2 linked regions of the Homo sapiens genome follow. The protein of the gene in region 2 purifies or fractionates together with the protein of the main gene of each other region. This does not show direct contact. Each region holds a gene or a part of one and is shown on either strand. Other genes may lie near its edges.

Evidence for each region. The genes of interacting proteins can lie anywhere in the genome.
Region 1: the proteins of IPO4 (region 2) and HAT1 purify together in Homo sapiens (affinity purification with mass spectrometry; 2 studies listed by BioGRID, with this or other methods). This does not show direct contact.

The regions. Positions count from the first base shown.
Region 1 is NC_000002.12:171,925,443-171,932,470, forward strand, and holds part of HAT1 (histone acetyltransferase type B catalytic subunit), read left to right. Parts: intron 1-94; coding exon 95-199; intron 200-7,028. UniProt on the Homo sapiens protein: Histone acetyltransferase that plays a role in different biological processes including cell cycle progression, glucose metabolism, histone production or DNA damage repair. Coordinates histone production and acetylation via H4 promoter binding.
Region 2 is NC_000014.9:24,179,714-24,185,839, reverse strand, and holds the end of IPO4 (importin-4), read left to right. Parts: intron 1-272; coding exon 273-381; intron 382-527; coding exon 528-657; intron 658-859; coding exon 860-973; intron 974-1,076; coding exon 1,077-1,190; intron 1,191-1,421; coding exon 1,422-1,542; intron 1,543-1,730; coding exon 1,731-1,842; intron 1,843-1,941; coding exon 1,942-2,057; intron 2,058-2,172; coding exon 2,173-2,250; intron 2,251-2,326; coding exon 2,327-2,384; intron 2,385-2,484; coding exon 2,485-2,590; intron 2,591-2,670; coding exon 2,671-2,864; intron 2,865-2,997; coding exon 2,998-3,048; intron 3,049-3,416; exon of another isoform or gene 3,417-3,436; coding exon 3,437-3,562; intron 3,563-3,676; coding exon 3,677-3,885; intron 3,886-3,996; coding exon 3,997-4,129; intron 4,130-4,222; coding exon 4,223-4,327; intron 4,328-4,916; exon of another isoform or gene 4,917-5,081; coding exon 5,082-5,151; exon of another isoform or gene 5,152-5,267; coding exon 5,268-5,398; 3' UTR 5,399-5,571; downstream 5,572-6,126. Other genes in the region: meiotic recombination protein REC8 homolog, read right to left, coding at 5,572-6,040, 6,114-6,126. UniProt on the Homo sapiens protein: Nuclear transport receptor that mediates nuclear import of proteins, such as histones, RPS3A, TNP2 and VDR. Serves as receptor for nuclear localization signals (NLS) in cargo substrates.

The sequences.
Region 1 (7,028 bases), on a different chromosome or scaffold from region 2:
AATCATACCCCTATTCCACTTATAATAACCCTATTGCAGGTTTGACAATTTAAGTCACTTCCAAACTAAACCTTTTAAAAACCTTTTCTCTTAGGATTTGGTGCTATGGAGAAATTTTTGGTAGAATATAAGAGTGCAGTGGAGAAGAAACTGGCAGAGTACAAATGTAACACCAACACAGCAATTGAACTAAAATTAGGTATGTATGCCATTTCTAAGTGATGTTATGTACATACTGTGTGTGTATATATAATCTTTCATTTTAAATTTGAAGTAAAATTTTATGTAAGAGCAGTTATTTATGCAAATGTATGGTTTTCTGCATTTATTGAACATATTCAGATTTTATTCAGTTTTGATTTATGTCATGGAAGGTGTAGATGTTTGAAAGGTGACAGAATTTTATATAAAAAGGAAAGACGGTGGGGCAAAAAGTAATAAGTATATATAGTTTTAGCCTCTTAAAAATATTTTTTACTTTTTTGCCTGTAAGAATAATAAACAATAGCAAATATTGGTGAGGATGTGGAAAAAAACACTTGTATATTGCTGGTGGGAATGTAAAGTGATATAACTATTTTGGAAAACAGTTTGGCAATTTTCTTTTCTGTCTTTTTTATTTTCTTTCCTTCCTTCTCTTCTTTCATTTCCTCCCCTCACCCCTTTTTTTTCTTTCTTTCTTTTTTAAAGAGACAAGGAAGGTCTCACTCTATCACCCAGGCTGTAGTGCCACGGCATGGTCATAGCTCACTGCTGCCTCCAACCCCTGGGCTCAGGCAGTCCTTCTGCCTCAGCCTGCCAGGTAGCTAGGAGACCACAGGTGTGCACCACCCAAGCCTGGCTAATTTTTATAAAAAATTTTTTTTTTGAGACGGAGTTTCACTCTTGTTGCCCAGGCTGGAGTGCAATGGCGTGATCCTGGCTCACTGCAACCTCCACCTCCTGGGTTCTAGTGATTCTCCTGCCTCAGCCTCCCGTGTAGCTGGGATTACAGGCATGCGCCACCACGCCCGGCTAATTTTTTGTATTTTTAGTAGAGACGGTTTCTCCATGTTGGTCAGGCTGGTCTTGAACTCCCAACCTCTGGTGATCTGCCCACCTTGGCCTCCCAAAGTGCTGGGATTACAGGCATGAGCCACCACGCCTGGCTTATAAAAATTTTTTCATAGAGATGGACCCTACGTGTCTATGTGTCCAGGCTCATCTTGAACTCTTGTCTTCAAGCAGTCCCCTGGCTTGGCCTCCCAAAGTGTTGGGATTATAACTGTGAGCCACAGCGCCCCTCCTGGTTTGACAGTTTCTTAAGAAGTTAAACATAAATGAATTATATGACCCAGGAGTTATACTGCCAGGTATCTGTCTACTCAAGAGAAATGAAAATGTATGTTCACGCAAAAACTTGTACATGAATGTTCATAGCTGCGTTATTCACAGTAGCCAAAAAAATGTAAGAAACCCAGATATATATCAGCTGGTAAATGAATAAAGTATAGTATAGCTATACCACGGAATACTATTTGACAATAAGAAGGAATGAAATTCTGATACCTATTGCAGTAAACCTTAAAAAGATTGTGCTAAGTGAAAGAAACTAAACAAAAACACCATATATTGTGTAATTCCATTTGTATGAAATGTTCAGAAAAGACACATCCATAGAGACAGAAAGTAGTGGTTGCACAGTGGAGCGCAGAGTAACTACAAATGGGCCTGACATTTCTTTTGGGAATTATGGAAATGTTTGAAAGTTAGATTGTGGCACAGCTCTGAATTTGCTAAAATTTTACACTTAGAACAAGTGAAAAATAATATATGCTCATGATTCCTGGTTGCATTACTTTCCATGCCTGAGTTTCCTCATTGTTAATAGTACTTCACAGTGGTTACAAAGATTAAATATGGAGTTAAATATCAGTAAAGTGTTTAAACTCCTTGACATGCAGAAAATACTTGGTAAGGGCTGAGTGGAGTGACTGGATGTGGTTGCTGAGATCTGCGTATTTTTTTTACATGTCCCCTCATTTTTCAATTACTTCATTCTTTGATAGTTTGATTACCTTGGAACATCCTGTCATCTGTTGTCTCTGCCCCAGCCTTGGAATCAGCCATTTCTCCAAGGATCCCTGGTTTCTTTTAGTAGGAAATGTTATTTTATTTTATTTTAGAGACAGAGTCTCACTCAGTCGCCCAGGTAGAGTGCAGTGGTGCGATCTTGGTTCACTGCAACCTCTGCCTCCCAGATTCAAGTAATTCTTGTGCCTCAGCCTCCGTAGTAGCTGGGATTACAGGCATGTGCCACCAGCCCTGGGTAATTTTTTTGTGTTTTTAGTAGAGATAGGGTTTCGCCATGTTGGTCAGTCTGTCTCAAACTGACCAAGTGATCCACCTGCCTCGGTCTCCCAAAGTGCTGGAATTACAGGCATGAGCTACTGCACCCAGCCAGGAAATGGTTTTTTATTTTGAGATGGAGTCTCACTCTTGTCACCCAGGCTGGAGTGCAATGACGCGGTCTTGGCTCACTGAAACCTCTGCCTCCTGGGTTTAAGTGATTCTGGTGCCTCAGCCTCCCAAGTAGCTGGGATTACAGGCACCCGTCACCACACCCAGCTGATTTTTGTATTTTTAGTAGAGACGGTTTCATCATGTTGGCCAGACTGGTCTCGAACTCCTGACCTCAGGTGATCTGCCCACCTTGGCCTCCCAAAGTGCTGGGATTACAGGCATGAGCCACCACCCCCAGCCACAGGAAATGATATTTTAAAGCCAAGATTCGGGTGCTAAAGCCAAGATCTAGGTGCTAGGTGAACACATTGCTGTTAGTATTGCTCTAGCATTAATGAGAGCAGGCTTAGTAGATAGAACTTTATTACTTACTGTTCAGTCCCTGCCACCTGCAAGGTGACTACAGTCTCATTTCTTTGACCAAAATTAGCTTTCTGTGTTCTAGCACTTTATATAAATGGAATTATACCATATATACTGGCTTTGTGACTGGCTTGTTTCATTAAGCATAATTTTTATGAGGTACATCATATGTTGTCTGTACCAGTAGTTCATTCCCCATTTTTTTTGTTGTTGTTGTTTGAGACAGAGTCTCACGCTGTTGCTTGGGCTGGAGTGCAGTGGCATGATTGCGGCTCAATGCGATCTCCACCTTCTGGGTTCAAGCGATTCTCCTGCCTCAGCCTCTGGAGTAGCTGGGATTACAGGCGCCTGCCACCACGCCTGGCTAATTCTTTTGTATTTTTAGGAGAGACGGAGTTTCACTATGTTGGCCAGGCTGGTCTCGAACTCCTGGCTTCATGATCGCCTGCCTTGGCCTCCCAAAGTGCTGGGATTACAGGCGTGAGCCACCGTGCCCGGCAGTTCATTCCTTTTTATTGCTGAATACTGTTCTGTTGTTGGATACATCATTATTCGCCAGTTAATAGATATTTGAGTTGTTTCTAGTTTTTGGCTGTTATTGTATGAGTTTTTTTGTGGACATATGATTTTATTTTGGATAAATTCCTAGCTGTGGATTTGCTGGGTCAATAGGGTATTTGTATGTTTAACTTTATGGGATACTTGGCCAGACTGACTTCCAAAGTACTTTTATACTCACATCAACAGTGTATTAGAATTTTCGTTATTCCATATCCTCACCAACATTTTATGTTGTCAGTTTTTAAAGTTTTAGGCATTCTACTGGGTTTATAGTAGTATTTCTTTGTTAATAGTACTTCATAGTGGTTGTAAAGATTAAATAGGTTTTAATTGTCTTTTCCCTCATAACTAATGCTATTAAGGATTGTTTTTTTAATGTGGTTATCGACTATCTCCTTTTGGACTCATGTATTCACATCTTTTGCCCATTTTAAAATTAGGTTATTTGTCTTTTTGTTATTAGTTGTAGGTGTTATTTACCTACATATTCTGGATGAGTCCTTTATGCAGATTACATGTTTTGTGCACATTTTTCTCTCAGTTTGTGGTTTGCCTGTTCATATTCTCAACTTTTTTTGTATAACTGGAAGTTTTTAGTTTTAATCATGTCCAGTTTATTAATTTTAAAAATTTCTATTAGTGTTTTCTGGTTCATGCCTAATATCTTTGTCTACCCCAAGGAGATCATGAAGCTCTCCTAATGTTTTCTTCTGGAAGGTTTTTAGTTTTAGCTTATTAAAATTATGTCCATGATCCATCTCATGTTATTTTTCATGTCCAATATGAGGAAAGGGATTAAGGTTTGTTGTTCCATGTGGATATCCACTTGTTTCAGTATAATTTGTGTGAATGCCTTGGTGCGTTTTTAACAAAAAAATATTGAACTTACACGTGTGGATCTACATCTGGACTTTTCTCATTCATTGTCTGTTTTTCTGTCAATATCGTACTGTCTGGATTAGTGTAACTTTCTATTGATTCCTGGTAGTGTGAGTCCCACATCTTTATTTTTTAAAGATTGTTTCGATTATTCTTGACCTTATTTCTGTATACATTTTGGAATCAGGTGGTTAATTTCTATTTAAAAAGTTCTGACTAATCTTAAGATTACATTGAATCTAAAATTGAATGTGGGGAGAATTGCTATCTTAATAACATTGAGCCTTCCAGTATATGAACATGATGTATTTCTGTATTCTAGAAATGTTTCAGGTTTTCAGTCTTGCATGTATTTTGTTAAATTTATCTGAGTAAATCTACATCTTTTGATTTTTGATGCTCTTAAAAATGGTATACTTTTTTATTTATTTATTTTTGTATGTGTGACATGTTCTCACTTTGTCACCGAGGATGGAGTGCAGTAGCGTGATCTCCACTCACTGCAACCTCTGCCTCCGAGCTCAAGTGATCCTCTTACCACAGCTTCCCGAGTAGCTGGGACTCCGCATACACCACCATGCCTGGCTAATTTTTGTATTTTTTGTAGAGACAGGGTTTCGCCTTGTTACCCAGACTGGTCTTGAACTTCTGGGTTCGAGTGATCTGCCCACCTAGGCCTCCCAAAGTGCTATTACAGATGTGAGCCACTGTGCCTGACCTAAAAATGATATACTTTAAACATTTTCTCTTCCAATTGCTTGTTTTATGTGTGTGCATGTGCATATGCATGGACACACAATGGCACAGTTTGTGTAATTGTTTTGTATTCTGCAACCTTGCTAAATTCACTTATTATTGTAGTTTTTTGTATTCTGGGCTTTTTCTGAGAGAGTGGCTCACTCCATTGCCAAGGCTGGAGTAGAGTGGCGTGATTGTGGCTCACTATAGCCTTGACTTCCCAGGCTCAAGCGAACCTCCCACCTCAGCCTCCTGAATAGCTGGGACTATAGGTGCGTGCCACCATGCTTGGCAAAATTTTTTTTTTTTTCTAGGGACAGGGCCTCACTATATTGCCCATGCTGGTCTTGAACTCCTGGGCTCAAGCAATCCTCTTGCCTCAGCTTCCCAAAGTGCTAGGGTTGCAGACATAAGCCACCACACCCAGCTATAGGATTTTTTTTTTTAGATGTAGATTATTTCAGATTTCCTGCACACAAACATTACCTGTTAATGAAGAAAGTCACAGTTTTTCTTTGCCTTATACAGTTGTCCATTGGTATCTTCAGGGATTTGGTTCCACGATCCCCCGTGAATACCAAAATCTGCCGATGATCCGGTCCATTATACAAAATGCCATAGTGTGGCTGGGCATGGTGGCTCACATCTGTAATCTAGCACTTTGGGAGGTTGAGGCAGGCAGATTGCTTGAGCCCAGGAGTTTGAGACCAGCCTGAGCAACATGGCAGAACCCCATCTCTACAAAAAATACAAGAATTAGCCAGGCATGATGGTGTGCATCTGTAGTTGCTACTCAGGAGGCTGAGGTGGGAGGATCTGCCTGAGCCCAAGAGTTCTAGGCTGCAGTGAGCTGTGATTGTGCCACTGCACTCCAGTGTGAGTGACAGAGTGAGACCCTGTCTTGATAGATAGATAGCCATATAGCCGGGCATGGTGGCTCACGCCTGTAATACCAGCACTTTGGGAGGCTGAGGCAAGAGTTCGAGAAGACAAGCCTGGTCAACATGGTGAAATTCCGTCTCTACTAAAAATACAAAAATTAGCTGGGCGTGATGGCACACACCTGTAATCCCAGCTACTTGGGAGGCTGAGGCAGGAGAATTGCTTGAGCCCAGGAGGTGGAGGTTGCAGTGAGCCGAGATTGTGCCACTGCACTCCAGCCTGGGCGACAAAGCAAGACTGTGTCTCGGGGGGGAAAAACAGCCATATAGTACAGTCAGCTCTTTGTATCTGCAGATTCTGTGTTTGAGGATTCAGCCAATCTCATGTTGATCCGTAATTGGTTGAATCAGTGGATGTGGAACCTGCATATGTGGAGAGCCACTTGTGTTTCATTTTCTTGCCTTACTGCACTGGCCAGAACCTCTATTACAATGTCAAATGGAAGTGATAGAGTAGACATCCTTGCCTTATTCCCAATTGAAGAAGGAAAATTTTGAGCCTTTCACCATTCACTATGATGTTAGCTGTAGGTTTTTCATATGTGCCCTTTATCAGGTTGAGGAAGTTTCCTTCTATTCCTAGTTTGGTGAGAGTTTTTATTATGAAAGTGTTACCTTCTAATGCTTTTTCTTTATCAAGATAATCATAAGATTTTTCTCCTTTAATTCTGATAATGTGGTGAATTACATTGATGAGGTTTTAAGTGTTAAATTAGCCTTGCATGCCAGTATATTATCCTTTTTCTGCTTTGCTAGATTTGACTTGGCAATGTTTTGTTAAGACTCTTTGTTCATGACAGGTAATGGTTTCTTTTTTCATACGTCTTTGCTTGATTTTGGTATCAAGGTTTCCTGGCCTCATAAAATGAGTTGGGAACTGTTTCTTCTCTATCTTCTGGAAGAATTTGTATAAGACTGCATTATTCCTTTAAATGTTCAGTAGCATTCACCAGTGAAGTTTTATGTGCCTTGAGTTTTCTTTGTTGGAAGGTTTTTAACTATACATCTAATAAATAGATTTAATACTGTTCTGATCTTCTGTTT
Region 2 (6,126 bases):
GGTGAGGGTTGCCCACAGGGAGGACCATGGCTGTCCTGGTTTACGCTTGTTGTTCAAGCTTATTTATCAACAGCGTTTCCCCCCATTATCAAAAGTGTCCTGGCTTGGAAGATAAATGACATGGCTTACCAGCTATAGGGACCAGGGGCTGCTGCCCACCCTCTGGTGACAGGAAAAGCCTTGGTTTTTCCAGGGAAAATGAAGAGAACAGGTCAGCCTAGGGCTCTCAGGTGTAGCTTCTCAGCCTATGTCCTCTTGTTTGCCCCATCCAGACTGCTGCCCCCACTGCTGCAGATTGTGTGCAAGGGCCTGGAGGACCCCTCGCAAGTTGTACGCAATGCTGCGCTGTTTGCCCTGGGCCAGTTCTCAGAAAACCTACAGGTGAACCAGGCTGAATGTGGGAGCCACCACTTGAATGTCCCCTTCCCCTCATCTTTCATCTCTTCAAGCATCCCTGCTGCCATCAGCACTCTTGTGTGTGCCCGGCAGGTGAACCTGACTCAGGCCCTGCTTGCTCCCTCCCCCAGCCCCATATCAGCAGCTATTCAAGGGAGGTAATGCCACTGCTCCTCGCCTACTTGAAGTCGGTGCCTCTTGGACACACACACCACCTAGCCAAGGCCTGCTATGCCCTGGAGAATTTTGTGGAGAACCTAGGTAGTGATGGCAGTGGGGAGCTTGGGGAAGGGGGATGAGGCGGCGGCTTTGGCTGAATGTACAGGATGTGCATCTCCCTGCATTGCTGCCTGTGGTAGGGGAAAGGGTGTGATGGTGCCAAAAAAAGGTTTCCGCCTGGAGGGAGGTGGGCGTGCAGGTAGCAGACCTGGGTTGGTTGGTAGAGGAGCATCCTTTCCCACAGGGCCCAAGGTGCAGCCCTACCTTCCGGAGCTTATGGAATGCATGCTGCAGCTTCTGAGGAACCCCAGCAGTCCCCGGGCCAAGGAGCTGGCTGTGAGCGCCCTGGGAGCCATTGGTGAGGAGAGAGGCAGGAGGCAGGGATGTGGGGTTCACCCAAAGGCCCTGTGGCTGGTGGTCCCTGCCCTCTCCAGCTCTGATTCTGTCCTTCCATCCTGCAGCTACGGCTGCCCAGGCCTCGCTGCTGCCCTACTTCCCTGCCATCATGGAGCACCTGCGGGAATTCCTGTTAACAGGCCGTGAGGACCTTCAGCCTGTGCAGATCCAGAGCCTGGGTGAGTGAGAGGTTCCCAGGTGGGGCTCCCAGTGCCAGCAAAGGGCTGGTGCTCACCTGGTGTTGACAGATTGCCCCCACAGGAGCACGGATGTCTTCCTTCTCATCAAAGGGGTGTGCTTCATGCTGTACCAAGGGGTGGGGCGGGATTTCTGAATCCCTCCCAGCCACCACCTTTGGTCCCGTAGCCCACCTCCACCTCCTGGTGCTAATGGAGCCCTTGCCCCCACAGAGACACTGGGGGTGCTGGCACGAGCAGTGGGGGAGCCCATGAGGCCGCTGGCTGAGGAATGCTGCCAGCTGGGTCTGGGCCTCTGCGACCAGGTAGACGACCCTGACTTGCGGCGCTGCACGTGAGTGACCCCTCACCCTGCCTCTGCCCTTGTCCCCTCCCCTCCTGTCTTCCCACTGGACCCACTGGAATCCCCACCCCAGACTCCAGTCGTCTGGTTTGGACCATAGCCAGGTGTTCCCGGGCTCCCCCATCCTGCCTGGTGGTAGCAGGCAGGACCTTACAGCTTCTTCTGCCTGCTTTGACCAGGTACAGCCTATTTGCAGCCTTATCGGGTCTGATGGGTGAGGGCCTGGCGCCCCACTTGGAACAGATCACCACGCTCATGCTGCTGTCACTGCGTTCCACCGAGGGCATTGTGGTGAGCAAAGGGTGGGTGGGCTGGGCCAGGCCTGCCCTGCAATGGGATTTATCTCCTGGGCCCAGCTGAGCCAAAGTCCTTGCCGTGCCTCCGCTCCAGCCTCAGTATGACGGGAGCAGCTCCTTCCTTCTGTTTGACGATGAGAGTGATGGGGAAGAAGAGGAGGAGCTCATGGATGAGGATGTGGAAGAAGAGGATGACTCAGAGATCTCAGGGTGCGGAGGGGTGCTCTTCTGATCAGGAATCTAGACTTTGGCTTTAGACAAGGGCCTAGTGCTGGATCTGCTCCTCTTGGTGCCTGATCACCACTGCCTCCCCTTCTTACTCTAGGTACAGCGTGGAGAATGCCTTCTTCGATGAGAAGGAAGACACCTGTGCTGCCGTGGGGGAGATCTCTGTGAACACCAGGTGAGCATTCGCCCTTCCCTGGCACTGAAAACCCTGCCTGGGGGCCCCTTACCCACGGCTGTGTCTCTCTCTGTAGTGTGGCCTTCCTTCCATACATGGAAAGTGTCTTTGAAGAAGTATTTAAACTGCTGGAGGTGAGCGGGCCGGCGGGTGGAGTGGGTGGGGTTCTCAGGCTGGGGGCCCTGTGTTCACGGTGCACATAGCAGACATATCCCGCCCCTCCTCATCCTGCAGTGCCCTCACCTGAATGTGCGGAAGGCAGCCCATGAGGCTCTGGGTCAGTTTTGCTGTGCACTGCACAAGGCCTGTCAAAGCTGCCCCTCGGAACCCAACACTGCTGGTGAGGAGAGGCTGGGCCAGGCTGGGGGTTCTTGGGGAGGGGCAGGGCCTGACTGGTGCTTCAGCCAATAATGTCCCCAGCTTTGCAGGCTGCCCTGGCCCGAGTCGTGCCATCCTACATGCAGGCAGTGAACAGGGAGCGGGAACGCCAGGTGGTGATGGCCGTGCTGGAGGCCCTGACAGGGGTGCTCCGCAGCTGTGGGACCCTCACACTGAAGCCCCCTGGGCGCCTCGCTGAGCTCTGTGGCGTGCTCAAGGCTGTGCTGCAGAGGAAGGTGAGCAGGGCAGGTGGGCTTCGGGAAGGAGAGGTGCTGGGCCTCGGTTGGGGACTGGCTACAAGTCCACCCCCTACCCCCATGAAAAGAGAAGGGGCGTGAAAGCTCCGCTAAGTTGAGCTACTTCTTGTAGACAGCCTGTCAGGATACTGACGAGGAGGAGGAAGAGGAAGATGATGATCAGGTGAGAGCCAGGGATAAAAACGGGGACCAGGCGGTCCAGGCAGTCTCCACAGGGACAGGGGTGGACAGTGTATTTGGGCTTGGCCTGGGGCAGCCAGGGCCACTAAAAGAGACTGGTAATGGCCAGAGGGATACAACCCTGATCCCACTAAGCCAGTGGGAGTTCAGGGAAGGAGAGCAGTGTGGACTGGGGTGTGCTTGGAGTGATAGGTAGGAGCAGAAGAGCCAGGGGAAGAAGCTGGGTCATGGAAACACCCAGCTTGAGAGGGGCCAGCCCTATCAACCAAGGGCAGCCCCAGGGACCCCTGCAGCTGGTGGCAGAGCGTGGGAGGGAGGTGTACAGTCACTGAGCTGGCCCTGGTGCTCCAGCCCCTGACCTGGCTCCACAGGCTGAATACGACGCCATGTTGCTGGAGCACGCTGGAGAGGCCATCCCTGCCCTGGCAGCCGCGGCTGGGGGAGACTCCTTTGCCCCATTCTTTGCCGGTTTCCTGCCATTATTGGTGTGCAAGACAGTGAGTGTCCATCTTCTGGCTTCAAGCCCTAGTCCCCTCGTGCACCCGGTGCCCACCACAGCCTTTATCCTTGGCCCAGGCTGATCTGTACTCCTTCCTGTTCTCCCCCATCAGAAACAGGGCTGCACAGTGGCAGAGAAGTCCTTTGCAGTGGGGACCTTGGCAGAGACTATTCAGGGCCTGGGTGCTGCCTCAGCCCAGTTTGTGTCTCGGCTGCTCCCTGTGCTGTTGAGCACCGCCCAAGAGGCAGACCCCGAGGTGCGAAGCAATGCCATCTTCGGGATGGGCGTGCTGGCAGAGCATGGGGGCCACCCTGCCCAGGAGTATCCTTGGCTCGCAGGACGGGAGGGACTGGAGGTTGGGGGAGTGTCCCCAGGGCTTGCAGGTGGGCAAGGTCTACCTGAGCGTGTGGCCATTCCTTGACTGTGGACCAGACACTTCCCCAAGCTGCTGGGGCTCCTTTTTCCCCTCCTGGCGCGGGAGCGACATGATCGTGTCCGTGACAACATCTGTGGGGCACTTGCCCGCCTGTTGATGGCCAGTCCCACCAGGAAACCAGAGCCCCAGGTGAGGGAGGGAGACATCAGGCAGGGCTTGGAAGCTGAGGAGGGAGGGTGGTGGAGGGCAGGGCAGGTTGGCCTGAGACATTTGTGTGCCCAGGTGCTGGCTGCCCTACTGCATGCCCTGCCACTGAAGGAGGACTTGGAGGAGTGGGTCACCATTGGGCGCCTCTTCAGCTTCCTGTACCAGAGCAGCCCTGACCAGGTAACCTTGCTGCTGGCAGCCCTCAGAGGGGAACGTGCCGCTCCACTCAGTGATAGGCACTGTCTGCTGATGAGGCTCGGGAGCTCCAGGCTGTCAGTTGCACCTGATGCAAGGTGACAGTTTCAGCTGTTCTTTTGGTACTCCCTGCACCATTTCTTATTTGTCTGCAAGGATTGGCAGCCAGTCCTGTGATGGGACAGGAGGGACTTCCTTTCTCCACGTAGCATTTTTCCTGAGGAAGCTCCATTTCTACCCTTTGGTCTGAGCCAGAAGTTGCAGTTTTCCTAGGCTGGTTTCCTAAACCGGGGCCCTTTCAAACTGTGCTCTGTGGAGCCCAGGGTACCTCTGGGCCACCACACCATACATTTCAATCAGATCAGCTCTGCTCTCTGAAGAGATTTTGCCTGTACCAAGTAGCTAGGTTTGGAGTCATGTCAGAGTGTTTGTGTCACCCTTGTCTTATACCTTTAGAGACTGTTGTGTAGGTGAAGCTCCTGAGTGTCTGGGTTTCTTTAGGTCTTGAGGCTATGACTTTAATCATCTTGTCCCACATCCCCCATTCCCTCCAAAAAAAATCATTAGCACCAAGTTTCATTGGTTCTTCTCATGTTCATAGTTGTCTTGGATGCCTGTGAATCAGTACCAGGTGCAACCACCCCCCTGATAAGAGATTCTGCCACTCCTTGGTCCTGACCACCCTCCTAGACCTGGGGTCTGGGGCTGCTGCCCTGAGTCAGCCACTCTTTCCTCACAGGTTATAGATGTGGCTCCCGAGCTTCTGCGTATCTGCAGCCTCATTCTGGCTGACAACAAGATCCCACCAGGTGAGGGTAGGAGTCATAGGCAGGGGCTTGCGGGAGGCTGGGAGTGGCAGGGCTCAGAGAGCCTGGGGCAGCGAGGCTTTAGGAGCCCCGACCTTTCTCCCTCCCTCTCCACCCAGACACCAAGGCCGCACTGTTGCTGCTCCTGACGTTCCTGGCCAAACAGCACACCGACAGCTTTCAAGCAGCTCTGGGCTCACTGCCTGTTGACAAGGCTCAGGAGCTCCAGGCTGTACTGGGCCTCTCCTAGACTGCAGGCTGCAGCCAGTCCAGAGAGAATAGAGCCTGCCCAGGCCTTAAGACCACCTCTCAGCCCAGTTCAGTTCTGCCTTACCAAAGATTCTGAGACTCATACCCATTTGGAGCCAGCCCCACTTGCTGCCTTACAGGGCTGTCCCTGAGGCTGGATCTGTTACAAATGAGTCATGACATCATACTGTAATAAAAGCAGCTTGTTTTCTGCTTGAACAATAGCTCTGAGAGCAAGAAGGCTGGAAATGCACATTCAGAAATGAGGTAAGCAGGACCCAGTGAGGCACGACGTGGTTTACTAGAAGTGGCCGGTTTCCTGGCAGCTTTGTAAATGGACTCTAACCTCAGTGGAATCTGGGCCCCGGCTGGATCAGGAGGCGACCATATGGCTTTTCTTGTTTCACGTGAAGAATCTGTTGCGCTGAGAGCACTGGTCAAGAGGCGAGGAGAGGGCAGGTCGGGGGAGTCCCTGTACGGGCCTCTGGTCTCTGTGTCCCTGCCCCACATACACACACACACATGCATACACTCACCCAGGAGCAGGTAGAAGACCCGGGCAGCCATCCTGCGGGGGCTGAGAGGTGACACCAGGCTGCTGAAGTCGGGCTCCCTGTTAGCCTGCAGCTCCAGTGCCACTGCCCTATAGGGATCAAGAACCATTAGCAGAGGCTTCAGCCCGGGTCCACCCCATCAAGGTGCCACCTCCCTGGTACCTGTGCACTGCTT